Homo sapiens: one gene and its partners. The protein of the gene in region 2 interacts with the protein of the main gene of each other region in a biochemical or structural test. Each region holds a gene or a part of one and is shown on either strand. Other genes may lie near its edges.

Region 1 (4,866 bases), on a different chromosome or scaffold from region 2:
GGTAGGGGAAAAATTAGCATAGAACTGGAGTCTTACAGACATGGACAGAGATTCCCAGCCTACAACTTACTAGGTCTGTGACTTAAGGAAGACGTATGGGCCCTCTGAGCCCCAGTTTTTTCAGCTGTGAAGTGGGAGAAAGGCTTACCTACCTTATAAGGTTTTCATGAGAATTAAATGAGCTGCTGTATATAGAGTGTCTGGCATCCTGCTTGGTCCATGGTAGTCCCCACAAATATTAATTAGTTCTCTTCTTTCTGGGATGCCTCCAGCCTCAGACTATATGTTGTCATCATGGGGATATAGAATTTCATCTCTTGGGCTGGGCGTGGTGGCTCACGCCTGTAATCCCAGCACTTTGGGAGGCCAAAGCAGGTGGATTGCTTGGGGTCAGGAGTTTGAAACCAGCCTGGCCAACATGGTGAAACCCTGTCTCTACTAAACTACAAAAAAAATTAGCTGAGTATGGTGGTGGGCGCCTGTAATCCCAGCTACTAGGGAGGCTGAGGCAGGAGAATTGCTTGAACCCGGGAGGCAGAGGTTGCAGTGAGCTGAGATCGCGCCACTGCACTCCAGCCTGGGTGACAGAGTGAGACTCCATCTCAAAAAAAAAAAAAAGAATTTCATCTCTTTTGTTTTTTTGTATATTTCTCTGCATACTTTTCCATATCTACCTTTTTTTTTTTTTTTTTGAGACGGAATCTCGCTCTGTCGCCCAGGCTTGGGTACAGTGGCATGATCTCAGCTCACTGAAACCTCCGTCTTCCGGGTTCAAGTGATTCTCCTGCCTCAGCCTCCTGAGTAGCTGGGATTACCAGTGCGCACCACCACACCCGGCTAATTTTTGTATTTTTAGTAGAGACAAGGTTTCACCATGTTGGTCAGGCTGATCTCAAACTCCTGATCTCGTGGTCCTCCTGCCTCGGCCTTCCAAAATGCTGGGATTGCAGGCGTGAGCCACCATGCCTGGCCCATCTCTCTTTTTAAATGGTGGCATTCCATTGGAAAAATACACCATGAAAATTTACTGAATCATCTTCCTATTGAGAGAAATTTTACTAGTTTTCAGTTTCTAGTTGAGCACAGGTTGTTTTGTTGTTCTGCAGAGTTGCTTCTGCAGGATAAAATTCTCTAGCGTGGCATTACTGGGTTACAGGGTAGTCACATCTCAATGGTTCTTGTTCAACATGGCCAGATTCCCTATGGAACACTGAGCTCACTCACATGTCTCTAGCAGTGCACGAGTAGGCCTTGTTCCTTTTTGGCATTGCTGATTTTTGATTGAATACTTTTTTTTTTTTTAAGCTTTTTGGCTACAGGCATATTAGGTTAAAGGTGACAGGCCATTGAGGTTTTTTTGTTTTATTTGTCTTGCTAGATTAATATGTGTCTAGTGGTATCTCAGGGCAGTTTTTCTTGTAATTTTTTTAACTAATTTTCTTTTCTTTCTTTCTTTTTCTTTTTTTTTTTTTTTGGTAGAGACAGAGGCTCACTATGTTGCCCAGGCTGGTCTCAAACACCTGGCCTCAAACGATCCTCCTGCCTTGGCCTTCCAAAGTGTAGGGATTACAGGCATCAGCTACTGCGCCTGGAGTCAGGGGAGTTTTAATTTGCTTTTTCTTTAATTATTAGTGAGTACAATCTTCTCTGATGTGTTTGTTAGTTTACTAATGATTTTCTTTAGACGTGAATCCTCTCTGTGGTATATTGACTTGTGAACTTGTATTGACTCTATTCATGCTATTTTAGATAGCATGAATTGGTCAGCTTCATAGTGTATATTTTCTCTATTCCATTAAATTTAATTAATTTCATTTGATTTTATTCTGTTCTTCAGGAATCTTAGTTTTTATATAGTCCAACTCATGTACTCTGCTTCCGTCATTAAGAATTCATAGTGGGAGAAATAGGCTGTTGCCTTTTCTCTAGAATGCATGGGGCAAGGCTGTTTGTTTGTTTGTTTGTTTGCTTTAGACAGTCTTGCTATGTTGCCCAGGCTGGAGTGCAGTGGCACAATCACAGCTCACTGCAACCTCTGTCTCCCGGGTTCAAGAGATTCTTCTGCCTCAACCTCCCGAGTAGCTGGGATTACAGGCACATGGCAACATGCCCCTGGCTAATTTTTGTATTTTTAGTAGAGATGGAGTTTCGCCATGTTGGCCAGGCTGGTCTTGGACTCCTGACCTCAAGTGATCTGCCTGCCTTGGCCTTCCAAAGTGCTGGGATTACAGGACTGAGCCACCACGCCTGGCCAGGGCGTTTTCTTAAAAAAGTGATTGAAATCTGCTCATGCCCTGTGCCACGTGGGTCTCACGCAGGTCTGTTCTCTGCTCCAGGTCTGCCATGTGAATCTGGAGGGGCAGCCGTTCTACTCCAAGAAGGACAGACCCCTGTGCAAGAAGCACGCACACACCATCAACTTGTAGGCGGCCAAGGCCGCCTGTGCTGACGAGGCCCGGAGCTGCTCCTGCTGCTGGCAACAAAGGATTCGGGAGGCTGATGTTTCTTCTGAGGGGAATGGGGAGAGAGAGGAAGCGACTGAGCCCTTTGGAAGTATAATTTTAGGTTTTTTCTTCTGTACACAGATCGTGCATTTGCATAGTTCAGACTAGGAGCCAAATGAAGACTCAAAACCAAGCTAGTTATTAATCCAAGACTGGAATTGTACTTCAGACATTTAGAGCAGAATTCCAAGAACTCAAAAGTGAAAAGCAACAAGCAGCTTTCCCAAAGCGATACACTTGCTTTGGTCACCAGAGGAGGACAGAGCTTAGAGCAGCTGTGGAGAATCTGAAGCATTCTGCGGAGTTCTTAAGCGCTCCCCTGGCAAACAAATTGAAGTGCCAAACAGCACTCGCTGCAGGGTATTTTTAGAGTCATAGCTGAGAGCTTGTTAGCTAAGACCCATTGGGCTTTCCTCACCAAAAAAGGAAGTGTTATTCCATTACTAGCGTCATGGAGCTACCTCTGCGCATCAGACTTCAGACCTTGAACAAACTTAAAACCTTCTTGGGAGCCCGGACGTCCAAAGAGATGTCTTCTGGGAGCCACTGGGCAATTGCCAGGGCTCCAGGAAGGGCTCTGGCTCAGGTTGCAGACAGCTGAGAAAAGATGGCCCTGTCAGCCACCCTCTCTCAGTCTGAAACATCCAACATCCCCAGAAGGCTTAGCTCCTTTTTGAATTGTGATGGGAAAGTAGAGTTGGGTTTTTCCAGTTTTGCTCTGTGGTGTGTGAGAGATTTTTTTAAAGGCTTTGGGTTGTCTTTGGCCTTTGTTTAGCTTTAAGGGTTCGTTAGCATGAGTGTCCAGTCGTGTGCATGAATTTCACCCCAACTTGTGACTGCTCACTTATGACGTCTCCCCCAGTACCCTCCATCTCAAATAGGCTTGGTGGCCTGTGGAAAAGAAGAGAGACAGAGAGACAGTGTCTGAAACAGGATGGCAGAATAGGCTCACATGCCCAAACTCTGGGTGGGGAAGAGGAAACTTACTTTCTGCCACCCTCAGTAAGAACACACGAGGAGGCAGGACCTCCCACCTTCAGGTCTGCATCATCCTTTTCAAATGTTCCTTTAAATGCAGCACACTGAGTTTGTACAATTGTGTTAACTGCTGGAAGGGACAGATGCACTGATATATATGCATTTGCTGTTTTGGCCAATATTTTGAAAATGTATGAGCTGAGTTGATCTAGCTATTATTTAAGTATTTATTGAAGTAGAGGGGCCTTCAAACTACTTTATACTAGTGATAGTTTGAGTTAGGTAAGCATCTTAAAGCTGTTTGGTGATAAAGAAGGCAGCTTAGATTCTGTGGTTGGAAACAGTGTAGTCGCTTCCCTTTTTAGGAAGCCCTGTTAATATGCTCATTGAAAACATGGCATTGAAGCAGGCACTTGCGTGGATGTTTCTCACTTGAGCACGATATTTAGGCTCTCTTCCAACTCACTCTATTCTGTCCTCACTCCTGTTTTGGATTTTTCTCTTTGCATGTTTGAAATGTTTTATGGGAATGTATTAGAACTCTTTTCTTCTAAGGACTGAGACTTCCAGGGGATTGCCATCTTACCTGTCTCTTCTCCATGAGGGAGAAGGAAGCAGCTAGCTATGTCCCTAGCTGCAGGAAGCCCCTATTTTTTCCAAGCACGAAGCCACCAGTCTCCCCCAGGGAGCATCAGGAAGGGACATGGATGTGCTCCTGCCACAGGGCCCTTCCTACCTTTGGATCTGTGAGAAGGTGAATACAAAGCAGCAGGCAGAGTAAAATCTGCTGGGACTGCCTGGAGATTTGTCAGGAGCTGCAGACAAGTACCTTGGAGCATTCTGTTATTTTTGGAAAGTTCAAATATGCAGGGACAAGGAGGTTGCTGACTGTACTGACAGGCTCTAAGTCATTTTCTCCAAAAACTATCTATTCAATTATCAGGGGCTGGTCTTGAGGAAGGAAAAAAAAAAAAAAACGTTCCCAGAATTCAGTTTCCAAAATCTCTTTTTAAAGGGTTTACACACACACACACACACACACACACACACACACACACACACACACACGATCATTAAAAAGTGTATGCTCTTTAAGAAGAAAAGTAAAATATCTCAAAGGACGGTTTCACCACCGTCCTTTATTGAATCAATTTTTCTACATTTCAGAGCAAGTGTAGATTCTGAGGGACTCCTATTTGCCAAAAAGACAAAACTAGCAAAAAAAAAACAAAAAAACAAAAAAAAAACCACTTAAAAGGTAGCAGGAAAAGAAGGTAGTTTTGAGTGTGGTTCACTCAGTGTCTGTGAGTCTGGTGTAGTGTCAGGAGTAAGGCCGTGTCTAGCTCAAGTTTACATTTGGATGTCCTACAACACTAAACAAAAT
Region 2 (4,866 bases):
ACCAATGAATAACTCTGACTTCAAGTGTTTTTTTTTCTCTATTAAGCAACTTATTTCTGCTGCCCAGCTACGTTTAAATTATCTACAGATCCTCGGAGAACTCAAGACATATGGTGGAAGAATCTTTAATGCTACTTTAATGGTATGTATTAGAGAACTGTGAAATCCTACTCACGTAAGGGACCTTAGAGATCCTCTGAAAATCAATGTGTCTTTTAGCCTAAAATTCCTGAGGACTCTGTCATGTACTAGAATTTGTCTGGTAAACTAAATAGTACACCACTGGAAAATATTTACCACGCGTTTGCTTGGTGCTACCCCTGTGATAGATGCTAGGGGAAGCAGGGCTGAATAAGATGTGATTTCCGTCCTTGAAGGATGAAACAAGCTACCCAACAAAATGAAGCAAAGCCATGAGACAGGTTCAGGCCTATTGCTGTGGAGTTTGGAGACAGAAGGTAGCACTGCTTGCTTCAGGGTAAGTATAGGGAGGAGAAGGGGTTAAGGAAAGAGGCAAGAGGAAGCCTGAATTTGGCCAGACTTCAGTAGAGAGGAAAAGGCATTCTGGGTCAGAAGGGGATGGTAAGCAGTTCACTCTGGAGCTTTGGGTATATGAAGGTGAAGAGGAAAATTGGAAATCATGAAAGAAAAATAAGAGTGTTTGACTGCCAAGCTGAGTCTCTGATTGTTCAGAAGGGAGGAATGAGGGGTGGGCCTGAGAAGAGAAACGAGAAGCAGAAAAGCCCTCTGCTCTCTTCCCATTCTCCTGCCTGCTTCTTTTTGGAGCCTAGGCCTAGAGCTTGTGCCTTTCAGCAGTCAGTGTCTCGGGGGTATGGTTTCAGAGAGCTTTCCTCCAGCACTGTCAGCCCCAGGACTCTGCAGCACAAAACCAATTTACAATTAGAGTGGGGTTTTAAAAAAATATTAACCAAAATCCTTTCAAAAGATTTGGTATGCATCTCAGTCATTTACAGTGATGGGCCAATGTAATCAGACTGCTAACCTAACAATGTAGATGGAAGAAGAGAATCAGTGTTTTGAAAGAAAGGAAGAGCATCAGATAGTTAGGGGAAGGGGAAACACAGATGGATTCTTCGTTTAAGTAGAAGACCCAAAAGGTGGGAAAGAGACTAGATCACAGAAAGGAAAGTTTTGAAGGTACAAGAAAAACTTCCCAATTTTTCTAAGGGCTAATTCTACCCTCTCCCAGCTGTCCAGTTCCAGTCCCCAGTCTCCCTTTACCTTTCTTGTCTAAGGAAAGAACTGGTAGTGGGAGAAGCAACCAGCTACATGGAACAGGTTCAGGGTGCTTGCTGGGCACTGCGGGTTACAAATAGAGATAAATGCAGACTCTGTTGTCAAGAAACTTAATGTGGAAAATGAGACTTAATACAAATAATTAAAATAAGAAGTCATAAGTGTTCAGTGCTAGTAGAGAAGTAAGAGGAAGTGGTACAGAACAACAGAGAGGAAAGGGAGATTTCTGGCTTAAGGAGGCTGAGATCAGGCAGATGCTTTCCATAGGCAGTAGGTTTTGATGTAAGCTTTTAAAGAAGGATCAGGATTTAAATGGGAAATGATGGCAGGGAAGGGATTCAAAGAGCAGGAAGATAGGTACATAGGTGTGAAAATACAGATGTGTTTATGGCTGTGGCTCAGGGCTATATTGGAAAGAGTTTTGGGGAAATAAATTTACACTTTGATTTAGCTGTTGATGGGGTCCAAGTTAGGCAATAGTCTGGAGGAGTGGTGGTTAGGATCCAAAGTAGGAATCAAGGAGTTTGCAGCGAGAGGTATTATTGCTTACATGTGAAATGTATTTTCACTCGCTTGCGAATGGAGACTAATTCCCCTTCCACCCTCTGCAGTTACAGGATAGAGAATCCTACATTGCCCTTCTAGTTGGAGCCAAGTATGGGATTAGCCAGGTTATCAATAGCAAACTCAACATCATGTCCACATTGGCAGAGTTTGCAAACATCAGCCGTGTAGAGCTAACGGAAGAGTCTGAGAAAGTGAGCGTCGTCAAAGTGTATCTTCAGGACGTCAAGGTAACACAATGGGGAGAGATTCTGAATTCAACTGCTGGAATTTGGGGCCAAATAGGGGCCAGGCTAGTTTATATGAATTTTAAATAATAATAAAGTCTAATGTCCAATATCTGCTTAAGAGGACGAATTGTCCATCCTGTTCTATCAAACGGAAAGTGGTAAATGGTAAATTTTCCTGAAGAGGTCCTAAAAGGTTTTTTTGCACAAACTGAGATGGACCATGTGCTTTCCTGTTGGATTTAGAAACGTAGATGGAGAACACCAGAGGATTTTTTTTTTTTTTTGAGACAGAGTCTCACTCTGTTGCCCAGGCTGGAGGGCAGTGACACGATCTTGGCTCACTGCAAGCTCCGCCTCGTGGGTTCACACCATTCTTCTGCCTCAGCCTCCCAAGTAGCTGGGACTACAGGCGCCCACCACCATGCCCGGCTAATGTTTTGTATTTTTTCGTAGAGATGGGGTTTCACTGTGTTAGCCAGGATGGTCTCGATCTCCTGACCTCGTGATCCACCCGCCTTGGCCTCCCAAAGTGCTGGGATTACAGGCGTGAGCCACCGCGCCCGGCCCACCAGAGGATTTTATCACATGAATGGGACCAGATTGCTGCTCAAAAGCTTTGAGTGGTGGGCATTAAAATGGGTAAATAGTGGGCCCGGTGTGGTGGCTCACGCTTGTAATCCCAGCTACTTGGGAGGCTGAGGCAGGAGAATCACTTAAACCCAGGAGGCAGAGGTTGCAGTGAGCAAAAGATTGCACCATTGCACTCCAGCCTGGTGACAAGAGCAAAACTCTGTCTCAAAAAAAAAAAAAAAAAAGGTAACTAGTGCAGGGTACCTCCTGAGCCTCTCTCAAAGGTCTTACTTTTATTCTGCCCTCCTTTGATTTAATCCCAACATACTCAATATTGGTGCTTTATTCTTATCACCCTCTCCCTCATTCTCCACATGTTCTTGCTCCTTTTTCTTTTTTAAGTTCAGTCTTGCAAGTCCCTCTGCAGGAATGAACAGGGTGGGATGGGGCAGTTTGGATATGGCGCTGGGGTAGAGGATGAGGAGTCAGAAGACACTGTATAGATTGGGTGGGAAGGACCCACTGTGTGTGAGTGAGTGTGTGAGTGCGTGAGAGTGTGTGTGTGTGTGTGTGTATGTGTGCGCACACACACACGCGATGGTGTCTGTACGAGTACATGCATGTCCTCATTTAAAGCCTTGCAAGTGAGGATATGGGGCACCAGGAGACCTACCTGTGGACCATGGCCGGATTTACCTGGAATCTCTCGTTGGTCCCACATGGCTTTGTTGTCAGTCTTCAGACTGTCCCTTGGTCCTTGATAAACATGAGATTTCTATTTGCTTTCAAAGGTTCTGACTTTGCTGCTGGAATCCAACAGTGCAAAAGACCTAGCCTGCCTGATTGCTGGGTACTACAGGCTGTTGGTTGACCCAGTTACCTCCATTTTCCTCTGGCCTGGAAACAAACAACAAGCGCACCGGGTATCTGCAGAAGAAGGTGAGGCACTGAGTCTTGCCCCAATAAGGACAGGCCCCTTTCACTGGCCTTGTAGGTAAGGGCAGCCTAAAGGGAGGTGGTGAATTGAATTGAGCCGAGGCTTCAGCTCAAGTGGATGAGAGCTATTTCTCTGTTTATTTCCTAGTAAACAATTGATCTTTCATAAATACTAAACAAAGAAGCTTTCTTTGTATCTGAAATTTTCCTGAAACCAAGGAATGCTGTGGAAGAGCTCTAGTTCCCTGCTGTATTTCCTAAGATTGTCTCTCAGATCCACTGCATTTTATCATTATTTCTCAGCCAGGCATTGTGGCTCACGCCTGTAATCCCAGCACTTTGTGAAGCTGAGGCAGGTGGATCACCTGAGGCCAGGAGTTTGAGACCAGCCTGGCCAACATGGTGAAACCTCATCTCTACTAAAAATACAAAATTAGCCGAGCATGGTGGCACATGCTTGTAATCCCAGCTACTTGGGAGGCTGAGGCAAGAGAATCGCTTGAACCCAGGAAGTGGAGGTTGCAGTGAGCCGAGATCGTGCCATTGCACTCCAGCCTGGGCAACAAGAGCGAAACTCCATCTTAAAAAAAAAAAAAAAAAAAAAAAGATTATCATTATTTCTCATCAAAAAGAGATGTCACTTATTTGTTCAGGAAGTAGATGACCTGGCTTCTCTTCCTTACCTATGCACTCTTTTGCAATCTCTTGAAGTATAAAAGAACTTCTCTGCAAGGCAGGTAAGACAGTTTCCTAGGCCAGCTCCCAGTTTCTGCCAGGCTTTTGCCTCAGCACCATTGATGCAGCATGAACCTAGGGCTGTGCTGATAAATGCTTAACAACTCCCTGCAGAGGGACAAAAACAGTTTGAAGGAATTGCCCAATTCCATGGTGTCAACATTCTCACGATGGGTAATTTCAGGCTACCACGATATGATGATACCATGATGAATGTGGAGATGGGAAGAGGTGATCAATAGCACACCACTGTAGAGTGTTTCCTCTATATGGATAAAGTAGAAATCAGCTCAAGAGAATAGGTACTAATACAATAAGTAAAACAGTTAGAAAGTGATGAGTTTGGAGTATCTGTTACCTTTGTTTTTATTTTTATTTTTTTTAGAGGCAGTCTCTCTCTGTCACCCAGGCTGGAGTGCAGTGGTGCAATCTTGGCTCACTGCAGCCTCCACCTCCTGGGTTCAAGTGATTCTCCTGCCTCAGCCTCCCAAGTAGCTGAGATTACAGACACCTGCCACCACGCCCGGCTAATTTTTGTACATTAGTAGAGATGGGGTTTCGCCATGTTGGTCAG
Region 3 (4,866 bases), on a different chromosome or scaffold from region 2:
AAGGATGGAAGAGGATTGAGAATAGCTTCTTTTCTCCTGATTATGAAAATAATAAATATTTATTAGGTAAATTTGGAACTTACTGAAAAGTGTAAAGAAGATAATAAAACCTATAATCTCACCATCTACTATTAACACTTTGATGTACGTGTATATATATTTTTTAACAATTGGGATCATACTGTGTATATTGTTTTGTAAACTGATTTGTTCATTTACTATTTTAAGCATTTTCTCATTTGCTTATATATTATTCAGTATCATTATTTCTTTTTTTTTTTTTTTTTGAGATGGAGTCTCACTCTGTTGCCCGGGCTGGAGTGCAATGGCCCGATCTCGGCTCACTGCAACCTCCATCTCCTGGGTTCAAGCAATTCTCCTGCCTCAGCCTCCCAAGTAGCTGGGATTACAGACGCCCACCACCACGCCTGGCTAATTTTTTTGTATTTTTAGTAGAGATGGGGTTTCACCATGTTGGCCAGGCTGGTCTCAAACTTCTGACCTTAGATCTACCCACCTCGGCCTCCCAAAGTGCTGGGATTACAGGTGTGAGCCACTGCGCCCGGCCCAGTATCATGATTTCATTACTGCATAGTACTCTATAATATTTTATCACTGCCTTATGTTGCCTTTTTTTTTTTTTTTTTTTTTGAGGTGGAGTCTTGCTGTGTCGCCCAGGTTGGAGTGCAATGGTGCGATCTCGGCTCACTGTAACCTCTGCTTCCTGGGTTCAAGCAATTCTTCTGCCTCAACCTCCTGAGTAACTGGGATTACAGGTGCATGCCACCATGCCTGGCTAATTTTTGTAGTTTCATTAGAGATGGGTTTTTGCCACGTTGGCCAGGCTGATCTCAAACTCCTGACCTCACGCGACCCACCTGCCTCGGCCTCCCAAAGTTTTGGGATTATAGGCATGAGCCACTGCGTCCAGCGTATCTTACCCTTTTAAAATCTCTTTTTTTTTTTTTTTTTTTGAGACGGATTCTCACTCTGTCGCCCAGGCTGGAGTGCAGTGGCTCGATCTCGGCTCACTACAAGCTCTGCCTCCCGGGTTCACACCATTCTTCTGCCTTAGCTTCCCGAGTAGCTGGGACTACAGGCGCCCGCCACCACGCCTGGCTAATTTTTTGTGTTTTTAGTAGAGATGGGGTTTCACCATGTTAGCCAGGATGGTCTCAATCTCCTGACCTCGTGATCCACCTGCCTCGGCCTCCCAAAGTGCTGGGATTACAGGCGTGAGCACCACGCCCAGCCTAAAATCTTTTTTTTGCTGTTACAAATAACACTGTGTTGAACATCCTGTGCATAAATATTTGTGTCCATCTCTGATTATTTCCTTAGGATAAATTGCTAGAAGTGGAATTATTGGGCCAAAGGGTATATGGTTTTTAAAGGCGTTTGAGACATATATCTTCTGAAAAAGTTTTATCAGTTACCTTTTCCACTGATAGTATATGTGTCTACCTTTCTCTGTAAGCTAACCGTTACTGAGTGAATTAATGTTTTTAAAGCCTTTGCCAGTTTGATTAATTAGACATGGTATCTTGTTTTACTTTGCAGTTCTCTGAACATTTCATTTTAAGTGTTTTGGCCATCTTTTATTTGCGTTCTTTGCTCTCTGTTGGGGATTTATTATATACATATGTCTATGTAATAAATGTATACATTTCGTATAGTTTTTCATTATAAAATATTTTTCACGTATAAAAGCATATGTAACTGTTATGTAAGGTTAAAATAATAAAATGGATGCCATTGTATCCACTGTGGAGTTCTTGGAATTGCTTCCTGCCCGTTACTTTCTTCCTGCTACTTTATCTGGGATGAAAAAGCCCTTTCTCAGGACTCATTGGGTCTGTGTTCTGCAGCTGGGACAGTCCAGGTGGCAGCCACACCAGTGCTTCCTAATTCTGTCTGTGGGGAAACAACTGCTACAGCTGGTGAGAACAGGAACTGGTCTTGGTGGAAATAACTAATCTTCAGTGAAGTGAAAAAAGAAGCCAAAGTGGAGAGGAAATGAGACCACAGATCCTCCCCTGCCCCTGAGGTTGCTTGGGGAGGCTGGGCAGAGCCGGGGTCCTGGTTCTGTGGTCAACACCAAAGTATGTGCCCCAGAAGTGACTGTAGTAAGCCCATGGGACAGCAGTGTTGGCTGCCTGAAGTCAGCGTGTCATCTGGTCTGCCAGACCAGTCACTTCCATTCTGGGGAAACATTTCTCCCACGTCTCCAGACCAGTCTCTTCCATTCTGGGGAAACATTTCTCCCACGTCTGAGCTGAGCAATAGCAGAGCCAGGGAAAGGCTAGGGGTTCATCGCGGTTCGGAAATGACTTTAAAGAAGGGGAGGACCTTTTTCTTTGAAGATAGAGGAGGGGACGGTCCTGTCAGCACACAGGCTCCTCCTCTCCTGCTTCTTGCTGGGTACTTCTGAATAGCAGCAGGTGAGAACTTCAGGGATTTAAGATTGTCATTCATAGAGAAGTGAAGTGGATTCCAGAATAGAACTGAGCTGGGCAGCTAGAATTCCTGCATTCCATTTCCAGTCTCTCTCTTTTGCCTCTCTGGGCAAAGTTATGTCTTTGTATCTTGTTTTCCTTTCACATGGAGAGTGAGTCAGTCCCCCAGGAAAGGTGTAGAAATGTCAAGCTCCCTCTGTGTCCTGGAGATACTCTTGTTGTCTTTGCCTCCCACTTTCCTCTCTACTTCTCTTTTCCTCTTTTAGAATCTTCCTCTTTCCAGGTTCTCTTACGCTTTCTGTCTTCCATCACCTCACAACAAAGTTGTGGGTTGGGGTTTGTGTGTTGGGTAGGGGAGGACATGGATAGGGTGTTTTTTTTTTTTGGGGGTGGGGAGCAGTATCTCCCCTCCTGCAGCTTTACTATTATGCATACTCTTCTTAGTTTATAAAGTATTTTTAGGTCCTTGAAAGGTGTTCTCAATAATGTCCAGAACCACGAGGGGCTAGCAGAATTATTTACATGGCAGATTTTGCCAGTAGAGGACAAGTTTAGGCTCTTGTATATTAGTGATGGTTTAATTCTTATCCTTATCCCCCACGTCCATCTCTTTTACCACCTTATCCCCCCTCACCCAGAGTTATGGCCAAAACTGGAGTTGGGGCTGGTGATCTTACCTCTGGGTCCCTTATACACACCAACAGGGAAGATACGTACTTTGTTTCTCCCCTGTTTGCTCATTTCTACTCAAATTCAGAATGGAGAATATCATAATCCTCTTTTAATTGTACGGTGCCTCTCTAAGAAAGTTGACATGAGCCTGGTCGTTGGGTACTTTAGGAGATGGATATTTGGTTTTAAAAACTACCTATAGCTTAGAGCAGTTTCTGTTCTTGTTTTTACACAGAAGCTGGGGAGCCAGTCAATAGATCCTCCTAGTGTTTCCCATGAAATCTTAAAAAAAATTTTGTTCTGGGAGGAAGCAGTAGACCATTGGTTTTGGAATCAGAAGACTTAGGTTCTGATCCAGCTTTATAGTCTTTTTTTTTTTCAGCTGCACGACTTTAGGCAAATCCTGTAACTTTTCTGAGTCAATTTCATCCTTTATGACACGTGTGAGGATAATACCTATCCTACAGGTTTTTGAGGATGCTTACAGGAGACAACATAGTGAAAACACTTTGTAACCTATAAAGGTGCTAAAAATAAATATTTATTGTATATACATTACCCACTTTATCTCGTCTCAGAATTCCATAATTTAAAGTAGCTTTCAACTGAGGGAGGTATTGTCCCAGGAGGGAGTTTTTGGAAGCACTTGAGGATGTTTTGATTATCATACTGACTGGGAGTGCTAGGCTTTCTAGCTGAGAGCCAAGGCTGTTAAACATCCCTCTGTGTTTGGGTCATGTTTTGGTGAGTCCCACACAATGAAGAAGGATCCTGCCCAAAATGTGATTGGCACCCCTACTGAGATTTGCCTTCCACTTATCTGTACCTCCTTTGTCCTGTGTACCAATTGAGGATGAAGCTTCAAGAGCAGTAAAAGGGAAGACAGAGCCATGGTGTGTGGTGCTTTCTTGGTTTTCCCATTTCCTAGCACACCTTTAGGAAAGAGGTGGACCTCTTTTTATTACCTCTGCCTGTTGGTTTAATACCTGATTCCTCTGTACTGTGGGCTCTACCCTAAAACTCATCAAGTGGCAGTTTGGGATGTACATACTACACTCACCCCCTGGTCAGTTACTCAAGCCAGAGTAAAAGTTTTTATAAGTTGGGAATATGTTTGAGAGATCTGTCAACAGTAGTTCTCAATCTTTTGGGTAACAGATTCCTTTGGAAATCCAGTTAAACCTGTGGTCCCTATTTCCCCTCTCCCCCTCCCATCTATGTATGAACACATGTAGTATTTTGGGAGTTTTAAAGACCATTTTTGGATTTGCTGAGGAAGCCCTGGCTGCCAGCCTGGAGGAATGGGAAGTGATAGCTGGGTGAGGAAACTCTACTGCAGGAACTCCTTGATACAGTTTTAGTACTCTTGATCCTTGGTAAGAAGGAGCCCTGGTTATTGGTTCAGATAAAATAATGCTGCTGTTAGTGGTTCCAACAAAAAGAGCTTGTTGAAACTTGGGTGATTCCCATTCAGAGGAAGATATTCAGGCCCCTGGACAGTTTAACTTTGATTAAGGATCCTTTGTGATGGGGTCTACCTCTTTGAACTAGGGCCCTAGCCCTCAACCTTTGGGAAGATCCAGGTGGAGATAATAGGATGTACAGCTGGCCCTCCTTATCTGTGGGTTCTGTATCTGTGGATTCAACCAACTTCAGATATAAAATATTTGAAAAAATTGTGCATGTACTGATCATGTAGCGTTTTTTTCCTTGTAATTATTCTGTAAACAAAACAGTA
Region 4 (4,866 bases), on a different chromosome or scaffold from region 2:
CAGAGATTGAATAACTTGTGCAAGATCACACATCTGGTAGGGCAGATCCAAGATCTGTTTGTCTCCAAAATCTGCTTCTGTCCTGCCTGGGAGACCTTGGGAATGACGGCAAGTGGTTGTAGGAAGGAGGGCTGATGTCAAGGTGGCTGTGGGGGCAGGAGGCTGAGGGAACTCACTGACCCTTGAGGGACTCCTTAGGTGGGGGATTCTGGGTTTCCTGTTGGCAGCTGGAGGGGGAGTGCCAGTTCCCATAAGTGGTTATTGCCCAGGTTGTGACCTTGGCTTGGCCAGTGATTGGTTCATTTTGGAATTTCATGAGTGACCCCCAGGCAGGGTTCTTACAATCACGCTGGAAGACCACCCAGGAAGTTCCTGTGGGGTAAAATGATGCAGCAGCCTGCTTTCCTCAGGAGGTCTGAAACCCTCCCCATGTACACACACACACACACACAAACACACACACATCCACCCACACACCCTCCACCCCTCTTGGTGTCTTTGGCCTTTTTTCCTAGCTTGTTTGTTTCTATGGGTGTCTTCAAGTTCAACTAGAACCTATGGGAATGACTTAGTTTTGAACCTGTAAGAATGAGAAGTAAACAATTCTTTGTACTGACTTTGAATTTCCTTTCTTCTGTTGTCCAAAGGTGAAGGGTGACAATGTGTCCCAGATTTTTTTGGATATTCTACAAAAAAATAGATATTTTTTTGTAGAAAAAAGCTTATTCTACAGTGTTGTCCCAATTTTAAAAGCCCTAGAAAACTGGTTAAGGCAAATTATAACCAAATCAAATCACTAATTATTACAATAAAGTGTAACTAGCTACAAAAATCCTAAAATTACAATTTTAGGCTTTGAGAAAATATCACTGATGATAGAGGAAGAGTGACAGTCTTTGTTTTGGGTCTTGGGATGGCAGAAAGAAAATATTTAGTAGGGAGTAAAGATCAGTGTACCCCTTGAAGTGTGGTGAAGATGGGTGGGTTTTGATGCTCTGTGTGTGTGTGTGTGTGTGTGTGTGTGTGTGTGTATGTAGAATTTCCCTAAATTCAAAATGATACTTACATTTTGATAAACCCAGAGAGTTAATTAACATGGCATAAATGTGCTAGCTCATTGTTGTTTTTCAGGGAAAGAACTAGAGAGAGACACAAGTCACCCCGGAATAAAGACGGCAGAGGGTCAGAAAAGTCTGTCACCATTCAACCTCCCACTGGAGAGCCCCTGTTGGGAAATGATTCTACTCGGACAGAGGAAGTTCAGGTAAGGATCAAAGGTGGTCTGTAAGCACACTGCCACTTGGCCAAGACTCCTGTCTGTAAATGTTTTCCTTAGGTTCTCTTGGATTTTTGTCTTTATTTTTCTAGCATGCTAATTAGTTTATCTATGTCCCATGGTCTCTTGTTGGTCTAAGGACAGCCTGTCCTGCCCTTTGGTAGCGTGGGGATTCTTCTGAAGTATGATTGGTTGGCCTGCTTTACATGGTGTGGAAAAGTAGCCAGCAAGGTTGACGACAGGGTTGGGAAGGGAAAAGCTGAAGTCTCCCACGACTCATTTCAAAATGGAACAGTATAAGGGGGAGAAGGAAACTCAGAAAACCTAAGAAGTTTAAAAAACATGGGGCAGCCCAGACTGACCATTACTACTAGAGCTATGCAGGAATTGAGAGGCCGCACGCTCAGATGCCTGGTAGAGAAACGTAAGTTAATTAAGGAGGCCCTGGGTCGAAAAGAGGGGGCAAAAATATATTAACCTAGCTTTGGGTTAACAGCAATCTGTGCAGTGCCTCAGTGTCAGTGCTGTAGTGTGGTGTGAAGGAGCCTATGGCTAACTGGAGAATGCATTTCCTCTGTAAAGGAAACAGCAGCTCCGCAGCTCCAGACACCTACTGTTGCTCAGGAATGCAGGGATTCATTGTTTGAGAAAAGCTGCAAATCAGGATTTTATGTGGAATCCTAACTTTACAGTATTTTTGAAATACTGATACTTTATTAATTTTTTTGAACCATTGAGTGGGTTCTTCTCCAGGTTCCAACTGTCTGGCAGCCCACCTGATTTAAATAAACATCTGAGCTATACACAGAAACATGTCTGCATACCCTCTGCACATCCTGAAGTATATATACACATGTCCAGCCTTGCCCCTCATAAACAAAGTGGTGTATGATACACAGCTGTAAAGATAGATATAGGACTATAGATAAGCATACATCTGTACATACCTGTGCATACACACAGGTAAGCATTTATAATCAAATAGGTGGACTGAAACTGGAATTCCTCAGAGTACACAAGGTGTTCTTGGGACACAAAACTACAATTGTGGGTTGAACGTGGGATTCATTGAGCAATGAGCAAATGCCTTTAGTGCTGCCTGCCTTGGCTCTGGGATGGCTGATGGTCGGATGGGGCCAGTCTTAGGATTGGATCACCCTGGAGTACTTGAAGGGGTCAGTTTCCTCCTGGATGTGGGTTCAGAGGTGCCAGTGGCCTACAGCAAAGGCTCTTCTTTCTCTGCATCTCCTCTGCACCTCGTAGCTGAGAACACTTTGAGAAGCTCTTGGTGTTGCCCCAGGATGATCTGGTGTGAAAAGCATTGAGATGGGTGTTTGGAGGCTGTATTTTTTAGTAGCTCTGTTACCTTGAGCAGTCACAGCCTTTGTAGGCCTCAATTTCTTTATTGAAAATCTAGGGGTTTTGATGAAAGCATCTTAGGTGCTTTTTCTTCTAAGAACCTGAAGCTTAACAGGATCCTTTGTGTATCTACATGTTTTAGGCATACATGTGCACCCCAGGAAATTCTCTCATGCCCTTTCTAGTCAATCTCTGCCCCACCCTCACCTCTCCAAGGCAACCACTGTGTTGATTTCTATCACTGTAGATCAATTTTGCCTGTTTTTGAATTTAGTATAATTAGAATCATATGGTCCATCTCCTGCCCCCACCCACCCGCCCTGCTTAGCATAATGATTTTGAGATTTATCCATGTTTTGGTATGTTTCAACAGCTTATTCTTTTTATTTTTGCTGAGTAGTATTCCATTGTATCAGTCTACCACAATTTGTTATCCATTCTCCTAGTGGATGGACATTTGGGTTTTTTTTGTTGTTGTTTGTTTGTTTTTTGAGGCAGAGTCTTGTTCTGTCGCCCAGGCTGGAGTGCAGCGGCATGATATCACCTCACTGCAGCCTCTACCTCCCGGGTTCAAGCGATTCTCCTGCCTCAGCCTCCCGAATAGCCGGGATTACAGGCACGCACCACCACGCCCAGCTAATTTTTGTATTTTCAGTAGAGATGGGCTTTCACCATGTTGGCCAGGCTGGTCTCGAACTCCTGACCTCAGGTGATTTGCCTGCCTTGGCCTCCCAAAGTGCTAGGATTACAGGCGTGAGCCACCGTGCCTGGCTGGATGTATATTTTTATTAATTTTTGGATAAAACCTGAGAGTGGAATTGCTGGGCCATATAGCTAAGTGTATATTTAGATTTATATGAAACCGCCAGAGTGGTTTTCCAGAGGCACTGTACCACGGTCCACTTCCACCAGCAGTGTTGGAGAGTCCTGGCTGCTTCTGGCCATCGTCTGAAATAGGAATTTCTCTCACTGTAGGTGATACTTCTGACTTTGCAAGTTGAAGGATTATTAGTTTATGGGATTGAGACCTTCACCACCACCGCTTCTTACCATAGCCCATACATTTCATAAATCATGGTTTTTTTGGTCATTACTAGATTCGGAGTTATTTGATGATGAGCGATGTCTGTCTTGCTGATTTAGCTACTAACTGAAACTAGCTTTTTCTAAGTTGGTGTCCTAATTTCACCCCCTTTGCCACTGCATCTGACTGTTTTCTTTCCGAGTGAAAGGATACATACAAATTTCAGAGGCAGAAACCTCTTTGGCCTCCTGTGTCTTTTCAGCGCCTTGCTCTTATTGCTTCATTATTGTTGCCAGTTGTTTTTAAACAACAAAATCCTTTAAAATTCTATCAACTGGGTTTTGCTAAGTGAATAGACTAATTGCTTTAACTAGCAACGGCCTAGAAGTTTAAAAAGAGAGGAAGCTAGAAAGTAAAAGATAACATTTTAATAATCCTGGTTGTTTCTATGCCCTTGATGTTTAGTTCCTCGTGAAAACATGTTTTAGAAAGAATTTTTAAGCCAATCTGGCCATACACGGATTCCTGGATTTGCTTAGCTTGGTCCATGAGAAATATTGTTAAAGAGTGCTTGACACTGATGCTTGTTAAGTGGATCTTGTGAACATCATAAGGAGATTTTTTTTTTTTTTTTTTGAGACGGAGTCTCACTCTGTAGCCCAGGCTGGAGTACAGTGGCACGATCTCAGCTCACTGCAACCTCCGACTCCCGGGTTCAAGCGATTCTCCTGCCTCAGCCTCCTGAGTAGCTGGGATTACAGGCATGTGCCACCACGCCTTGCTAATTTTTGTATTTTTAGTAGAGACGGGGTTTCACCATGTTGGCCAGGATGTTCTTGATCTCCTGACCTCCTGATCCGTCCGCCTCGGCCTTCCAAAGTACGGGGATTACAGGTGTGAGCCACCGCGCCCCAGTCCATAAAGAGATTTTAAAATGTGGGTCCTAGCTACAGGTAAGCTTGGGTTTGTGTAGTGGTGTAAGTTCCCTTGCTACGCCCTTTGCTCTTCTGGGCTGCTAGAGGGTGTAGTAATACTCCCACCTCCAAAAGTTGGACTTCGTAAGCCTTTATAACCCAGCGTGAATTGGAAAGAAGATGCAGGAGGTTTATCTCTATAGATGAGCTCTCACAAGATTAGTCTAATACCTGGGTTGCGCATTGCAGGGCAAACAGCTCCAGGCCCTCAGAGCTGCTCAAGGCTTTTCAAC

The links. The genes of interacting proteins can lie anywhere in the genome.
Region 1: the proteins of FRMPD1 (region 2) and LDB3 interact in a test that uses a peptide from one of them, tested with the Homo sapiens proteins (one large-scale study listed by IntAct).
Region 3: the proteins of FRMPD1 (region 2) and FMNL3 interact in a test that uses a peptide from one of them, tested with the Homo sapiens proteins (one large-scale study listed by IntAct).
Region 4: the proteins of FRMPD1 (region 2) and VANGL1 interact in a test that uses a peptide from one of them, tested with the Homo sapiens proteins (one large-scale study listed by IntAct).

The regions. Positions count from the first base shown.
Region 1 is NC_000010.11:86,730,551-86,735,416, forward strand, and holds part of LDB3 (LIM domain-binding protein 3), read left to right. Parts: intron 1-2,336; coding exon 2,337-2,426; 3' UTR 2,427-4,866. UniProt on the Homo sapiens protein: May function as an adapter in striated muscle to couple protein kinase C-mediated signaling via its LIM domains to the cytoskeleton.
Region 2 is NC_000009.12:37,733,684-37,738,549, forward strand, and holds part of FRMPD1 (FERM and PDZ domain-containing protein 1), read left to right. Parts: intron 1-46; coding exon 47-142; intron 143-1,868; coding exon 1,869-2,051; intron 2,052-3,412; coding exon 3,413-3,560; intron 3,561-4,866. UniProt on the Homo sapiens protein: Stabilizes membrane-bound GPSM1, and thereby promotes its interaction with GNAI1.
Region 3 is NC_000012.12:49,696,500-49,701,365, reverse strand, and holds part of FMNL3 (formin-like protein 3), read left to right. Parts: intron 1-4,866. UniProt on the Homo sapiens protein: Plays a role in the regulation of cell morphology and cytoskeletal organization. Required in the control of cell shape and migration. Required for developmental angiogenesis.
Region 4 is NC_000001.11:115,658,510-115,663,375, forward strand, and holds part of VANGL1 (vang-like protein 1), read left to right. Parts: intron 1-1,131; coding exon 1,132-1,264; intron 1,265-4,866.